2 linked regions of the Homo sapiens genome follow. Each later gene encodes a partner of the first gene's protein in a complex. Each region holds a gene or a part of one and is shown on either strand. Other genes may lie near its edges.

Region 1 (3,745 bases):
ACCGCCTCAGTTTCTATTGCCCATAATGTCCTTCATAAGGGGATAAGCCATTGTCAAGTTAACTGACCTCCTACTGTAGGCATGTACATGGCTCTAGTCTGCAGCTAGAACATTCCATGGGATTCTGACCTCAGTGCAGACCTGATATCTACTCTCTCCAACCCTGGCGCTGGAGGTGGCCTCAGCAGGGTACAGACTCACACAGACTCACCGTCCCTGTTGCTGGTCGATCAATCTGGATCTCCACCACCTCCCCTTCGATGATCTCCGTCTCCTCCCTAGCCAGAGAGCAGATCTGAGGAGACAGCCTGACACCTGGACCCTCGGGAATCACAACCTTCCATGAGCTCTGGGACAAAGGACGAGCCGCCCGGGGTGCGGGGTTGCTCCCAGGCTCTGGGGTCTGGCACCCGCCTCGGGTCCCCCGCTTACTTGATGCGAACGCCGATGGACCGCCGGAAGGCCTGCGTCAGCGCCTCGGTCTTGCTCATCTCCAGGGAGAAGATTTCACTGCCGGCGATGGCTGTGAATGGCGTGTCAGGGCCCAGGGCCTGCGCCATGCCTGGGAAGGAGGCAGTCTGTGTAGGTGAAGCCGCTCTGGCACCAGGTCCCCGACACCTGCTCTGTGGCAAACTAGCTTTTCTCCCACCCCAGGAAAGAGGGTTCAGTGCCATCCTACATGTAAGGACTTGGCTCCGAGCTGAGCAGAGCGCTGGGGAGGGGGAACTGGAGAGCGGGGTTCAGCCATGAGGCAGACAGTGAGTGAGAAGCCAGGCAGGGCAGGTTGCTCCGGCAGGCCTGGCTTAGAATCCCACATTGCCCAGAGGGTACACCCTAGAACCTCGCCACACCTCAGTCTCCCAGCCTCTACGAGCTGTTTAGCCTCAGAGCTGGACGAAGGGGACCAGGGACGAAGGCCAAGGAGCCCACACGATAGCTACAAGTGATGAAGGCAGACTGCCTCGGCTCCCATCCCAGATCCACCACTTAAGTGCAGGTGGCGCCGTGGGATCTTGAGCGATCTGAACTGCTCCCTGAGCCTCAGTCTCCCCCTCTGTCTAATGGGGATGATAACAGAACACGTGCCAGCATGGGATGACACCCTGCTTAGGAGTGACTATGGGCAGGCAGGCAGGCAGGCACTGGTGCTCAGCAGTAACACGGTTGCGCAGCCTGAAACTGGCACAGGGCAGGACGCTCTACCGCCGGTGGCCTGGGGTGGCTGGCAGGAAGCAGGTCTGTCTCCAGCAATAGCTCTGAACGCCAGACCTTTCCTTCCAGTTCCCTGGCCACAAGGTTTGGTCCAATGTGGGGCACGCCCTTTCAGACAGGCTGACACCACACCCTCCTGCCCAGTGTCAAGTGGGACCTGTTCTTAGTCCTCTTTGCGGATACACAATGGCCCTCATCACAGAACTCAGCAAGTATCTGCTGAGGGCTGAGTGGACGAGCACGGCCCATGCCATCTGGGGACACCAGGGGTCCTCTCTGCCTCTTTCACTAGACTAAGAAGCGTCCCCGCCAGGGCGAGGCTAGCCTCACCCCAGTGCTGCCCAGCACAGGGTTTGGCCTGCAGGAGGCCTGCGGGAGACACAAGAAGAGGAAAGGCGAGGCCGGGCACAGTCACAACATGCCTAAAAAATAAAGTCTACAGGCTCCCGCCTGTAATCCCAGCACTTTGGGAGGCCGAGGCAGGGGGGTGGATCACCTGAGGTCAGGAGTTCGGGACCAGCCTGGTCAACATGGTGAAATCCCATTTCTACTAAAAATACAAAAATCAGTTGGGTGTGGTGGCACACATCTGTAATCCCAGCTACTTGGGAGGTTGAGGCAGGAGGATCACTTGAACCCAGGAGGCAGAGGTTGCAGTGAGCGAAGATCACACCACTGCACTCCAGCCTGAGCGACAGAGTGAAACTGTCTCAAAAAAAAAAAAAAATGAAGAAGAGTAGGAAAGCAGAAAGGATGGAGGGAAGGAAGTTACTGTGTGTGCCACATTCTGGGCCTGGACATGCTGTCCCCAGTGTCCGCCCAGGAGCCTCCTGGCCATCCTACTAGGCTTAGCTCAGGTATCCGCTTCTCTGGAAGCCTCTAGCAACAAATGCCACCACATGCCCCGTTTTCCTACCAAGGTCAGGAGCCTCCTCTGTCACATGCTACCTGCATTGTAACACATGTCGCCTTGGAAGGGATCGTGTCCATGACCACCTCCTCCAGACCAGGAGCTCTTTGAAGTCAGGCCTTGGTCTAACTCATCTATGGGTCCCCAGTGTCCAGTCCGAGCACCCCAACAGGCACTGCTTTATCTTCACTGAAGACCTGGCTGTTACTCTGATTCTCCCTGCCTGGCCCCAGCCTCAGCACAGAGGTGGGAGTGAGTGGGAAGAGCAGTGGGTTAGGAAAAGCTTCAATGGGGCAGAGATGCTGAAGTAGGGTTTTGAAGGATAAATAGGAGTTCAACAAGGAAGAAGAGGAACAGCTGGGAGTGAAAAGATCATAAACCACTAGCGGACTGCAACAAAGACTGCTGGGTGACTCCTCAATACCCACCTTCCCCTTCTTCCTTAGTTCTAGAACCCTCATTTTCTTTCCTGTTTTTTTTTTTTTAATTTTTTATTTTTACAACAACCTTTTGCCCAACAGAAGAATCCTCATTTTCTTAAGGCAAAAATGGTCCAAATTATGAAATTTTAAAAAACATTTAATGTGCCAGCCTCCCCTGAAGCAGAGTGTGATCATATGATTACATTCTAGTCAATGAGATAATGAGATATAAGCAGAAGCATGGAGGATTTCCAATGACTGTTTAAAGGAAGCCAACTCGAGGGGGTTCATCCTCATGGCAACTCCTTTCTTCCTGCTGCCTGGGTTATGAGTGGGAAGGCTGGAGCTCTGGCAGCCCTCTTGGAACATGGCGTCCTCTTGACTGGAACCAAGTGCAGAGGATGGTGAGGCAGGAAGATGGAAGACTTCCTGGAACTGCTTAATAAGCCCCAAATGGCCTACCTCTAGATTCTTCCATGGGCAAGAATGAATCCTGAGTGTTTAAGCCACTGCCATTTTGGGTCATCTGTTAAAGGCGGCTCATCCTGACCCTGACTTACACAGGAGGAGTTATTTAGCAGGAAACAGGAGAGTTCCTGCCCTGGGAGGTTTCTTACCCATGGCGATGGCCGTCTTCCCCGTGCCCGGCTGGCCAGCAATAAGGACTGCCCGACCGGCAATCTTCCCTTCCCGGATCATCTCCAGCACCACGCCAGCCGCCCGCCGTGCCGCCAGCTGACCCACCATGCCTTGCGAAGCCTGTGGGTGGGAGGCGCACATGAGGTGATTTCCTGTGGGGCTACCATGGCATTTCTACCACATCAGGAAGCTAGTGAGATGGAAGCAGACATTACTAGCTGGGACTTCTAGGAAAAGCCAAAAAAGCTTTCCCTGCTTTTTTTTTTTTTTTTTTTTTTTTTGAGACAAGATCTCGCTCTGTCACCCAGGCTGAAGTACAGTGGTACAATCATGGCTCACTGTAGCCTTGACCTCTAGGGATCAAGAGATCCTTCCACCTCAGCCTCTTGAGTAGCTGGGACCACAAATGTGCACCACCATGTCCAGCTAATTTTTAAAATTTTTTGTAGAAAGGAGGTGTCACTATGTTACCCAGGCTGGCCTCAAGCTCTTAGGCTCAAGCAATCTTCCCATCTCAGCCTCCCAAAGTATTGGGATTACAAGTGTGAGCCATTGCACCCAG
Region 2 (3,745 bases), on another chromosome or scaffold:
GCAAAATCCTGAACCACAGTCTGTGCCAGAACTGCAAAATTTGCTCCCCCATCTCCCCGGACTGTTTCAATTTCCCACAAGGCTGAGTTATACAGCTGTGACCTCCTGCCTGATCTCTATCAGGAACAAGGTAAAGGCCTTAAAGGAAAACGGAACAGGCCTCCAGGGCTGCACTGAGAAAATTTCAACTTACCAGAGAGGCTGAGATCCTTCTGCAGGGCCCTCAGGCCCTCTCGATTCTGATTCCTTTTAGTGTCCAGGTCCACAATCTGAAAACCACAGGGACAGGAGGGAACTCAGCTATCTCTTGCCCCAAGCTGTCACCTCTTGACAGACAAGGGTTGCAGAGGCAATGCATTATTCCTGATTACATTCAACGTCCTGCCTAAAATGGATTGATGTGTGAATGTATTTCTTCTCTCACTCAGCTTCCTGGTCTTAAAGACAATGCTTTGTGCAGCTGCCCTCTCCCCAGAAAAGATGCTGAGAAAACATGTGCTGACTAAATGGGAAATTCTGCATTATCCACTCGAACTTTAGGGCATATCAGAATCACCAGGGGAGTGGAAACCCTTCCCCTACACACTGTGATTAAGCAGGCCTAATGTTTATTTTTGGACAAACTTCTCCAGCTGATTCTGAACTAGTAATATGAGAAACCCAACAATACTAGATTGGAACAGCAGGATTGGGGGCACTGAGACAGTGGTAACAACACAATAGCTACTAAGGAAGTGACGCAGTAGTACAGTATACTGCACGAGTGCTGGTTCTGGATTTGGAATACCCAGGTTCGAATCCTGCTATCTGCCTCAAGCTGTGTAATTTCACCTTCCTATTTACTCCTCCTCAAAATGGAGCTACGGACAGTACCTACCTTACAGGTTATTGAGCCAGCAATTAAATGACTTAACACAGTACCTGGCACATAGTAAGTAGCTGATAAACTTTAACTGCTCTTATTCTCATCCAGCACACCCTGATCCAGTACTTAATTTGACAGGATCTTGCCCAAGTTTTCCCCTTCTCAGTAAATACCTGACCCTTCTAACTGGAGATGAGAGGGAGTCACGACTCCCCCGGCTCCACTACCACGGCCTACTGAGTCTGTCTCCAAAATACATTTCTGACCCCTTCACTTCTCTCCACCACCACTACCTAGTCCAAATCCATCTCTGGTCTGGACCATACCAATGGCCCCTCACCCATCTCCCTGCCTCCGCCCTTGCCCACCTATATTCTGTATTCCACACAGCAGCCAGGGGGGATCCTTTTAAAACCTAAATCCAATTACGTCACCCTCCTTCCCCCAGGAACTCCCCTCAAAAACTTGGCACTTAAAACAAGACACCCCATAAACAGGGCGCCACCTTCCCCCACGTCCCCACCCCTGCCCGGTCACAAGGCCCCCTCAGGCTTCTTTTCGGTTCCAGCTCTCCCCTGAGGGCCTTTACAGGGCGGTGCCCCTAGATCAACCATGGGGCCGGGAAGTGCATTTTGAAACAGGTGCTCAGGGAAACGGCCCAGAGCATGATGGGTCGAGATCCACAGAGCATGGCAAGGGGCAGAGAAAGGATGAAGAGAGAGGAATGTCCAGCATAGCGCAGGCGCTCACTTAGTAGCGGCCGAATATTTATCGGCCCAGGTCTGTCGCCTCGGAGCCGTTAACCGCCTGTCCAGGTCAACTCACTGCGACCCCGCGCGCTTTCCCACGGCGCCGGCCGCCAGGCCCCAGCGCCGCGGAGGGGCCTCTCACCTGCCGCTTGTCCGCCAGCACCTCCTCGGCGAGCTCCTCCACTTCTACAAGGTACCGCAGCACTCGCTCTGCCTCGGGTGATAGCATAGCGCCCACCAACTCCGCTTGCGGCTCTCGCGCGACCCCGGGATCTCCGCTTCGACTCCCGCTGCGCACGCGCCGCTCTCTAGGTGCTTCCGGCGCGCCTGCGCAGTTAAAAGAACGGTGGTGCGCAGGCTCTAACACTAGTGCGCCAGCCGGCTGCGAGAGGCGGGGCCTAGCTTTGGGGGCGGGGCTGGAGCGCCCTCTGCAGGCTCAGAGAGCTCAGTCCTCGGGCTGCCTCTGACCCGTTACTCCCTCGGTTCATGCTTCTTGAGCACTTATTATGTGCCAAGCAGTTTTATGTGCTTAGGATGCAGCAGTGAACACAACAAAATCCCTGCCCTCATGGAACTTCATCCTAGTGGGAAACACCGACAATTAATGGCAAAACAATTATATACCGTGGCAGGTAGTGATTAGGATCTGGGAAATATTATTCTTCCCCTGGCTAAGAAACACCAAGAAGGCCCATGTGGCAGTGTGACTTATGTTTAATCTCTGACACTTTCAGTTTCTAATTTATAAAAAGGGGGTGAATAAAAATCCGCCTCAGTGTCTCTCCACAGGATCGGAAGGAAGCAGGAATCAGCTGGGCGCAGTGGCTCATGCCTGTAATCCCAGTACTTTGGAAGGCCAAAGCGGGGGGATCACTTGAGCCCAGGAGTTCGAGACCAGCTTGGGCAACACAGTAAAACCTCCGTTTCTACTAAAAATACAAAAAAAAAAAATTAGCTGGGTGAGGGGGGGCGCGCCCGTTGGTCCCAGCTACTCAGGAGGCTGAGGCGGGAGGAGCACCTGCATCTGGGGAGTCGAGGCTGCCCTGAGCTATGATGGCACCACTGCACTCCAGCCCGGGTGACAAAACGAGACTCTGTCTCAAAAAACAAAGGAAGCAGTAATCACTTTTAATTCCGTTTAACCAGAGTTCACTTGAGCCCCTGTGTTGGGCCCAATGTCCAGAGTAGCTGGCCTATACATAAGGAAGGGACTTGAAAACTATGGGCAGTAAGCAATGAAGTGCTAGCTCAGAAAAGCAGGTGGGTGTGGGTGGTAGGATTGGGAGGACTTCCCAGAGAAGGCAGGCAGGTGGAAAATGGTTACCATCAGAACCAGAGGGTTCCCACGAGGTCTTCACGCCCAAACTCCTCATTGGATAGCTGGAAAAAACAAACCTCAGAGAGAGGCAAGGCTTTGAAAAGAAGGTGAGGGGTGAGCCATGTGGATGCCTAGGAGAAGAGTGTTCCAGGCAGAGGGAACAGCCAGCGTATGTGGAACAGAATGGGCGGGGGGGAAGCAGGCAGGAGGTCAGAGGGAAGGAGGCATTGAGCCCACATGGCTGTAAAAGGCGCTGGGAAAGGACTTTGAAAGTCTAAAGAGCAGAACCGATATTATCACTCTGATGTCTCGCCTCCCTGATTCCAGCGTTTTATTCTCTCCTTTTGACCTCTTGTAACCAAGCCCCTTCACACCCCTTGCCTTACTTGAGTGTCAAAGCAACCTTTGTATGGATGGGATTATTACTGCCCCATTTCACAGCTGCAGACTGAGGCCAGGAGAAAGGCAGTGCCTCATCACACAGCAAGCCAGGAGTGCCTGGTGTCCATGCCATTTCCGGACCCTGAAAAAACCCTCCCCAAAAATTGTGGCCCCAGAAGCCCCAGCAGCACCTCTATGTTGCCTAGCCATTGGCTGCCTTCAACTACCAGAGGCAGAGCTAATTTTTCCTTCAGCCACCTGGTGTGGGGAAGGAGGGAGATTCATTAAGGATTCCTCACTGAGGGTGAATTTGTCGCCAAACCCAGGATGTTTTGTATAAACACCTTCTGGTTCAGAAATGCAGGCACAGGCCCTGAGAAGGAAAGGGGGATGTTTGCCAAAGCAGAAATGGGGCTCACCAGGCATCCCTCG

Evidence for each region.
Region 2: RUVBL2 (region 1) and PDRG1 share a complex: the UniProt entries of both Homo sapiens proteins name them as parts of the PAQosome complex.

The regions. Positions count from the first base shown.
Region 1 is NC_000019.10:49,003,835-49,007,579, reverse strand, and holds part of RUVBL2 (ruvB-like 2), read right to left. Parts: intron 3,374-3,745; exon of another isoform or gene 3,325-3,373; coding exon of another isoform or gene 3,304-3,324; coding exon 3,162-3,303; intron 563-3,161; coding exon 433-562; intron 279-432; coding exon 212-278; intron 1-211. UniProt on the Homo sapiens protein: Possesses single-stranded DNA-stimulated ATPase and ATP-dependent DNA helicase (5' to 3') activity; hexamerization is thought to be critical for ATP hydrolysis and adjacent subunits in the ring-like structure contribute to the ATPase activity.
Region 2 is NC_000020.11:31,950,119-31,953,863, forward strand, and holds the start of PDRG1 (p53 and DNA damage-regulated protein 1), read right to left. Parts: upstream 1,929-3,745; 5' UTR 1,844-1,928; coding exon 1,757-1,843; intron 270-1,756; coding exon 194-269; intron 1-193. UniProt on the Homo sapiens protein: May play a role in chaperone-mediated protein folding.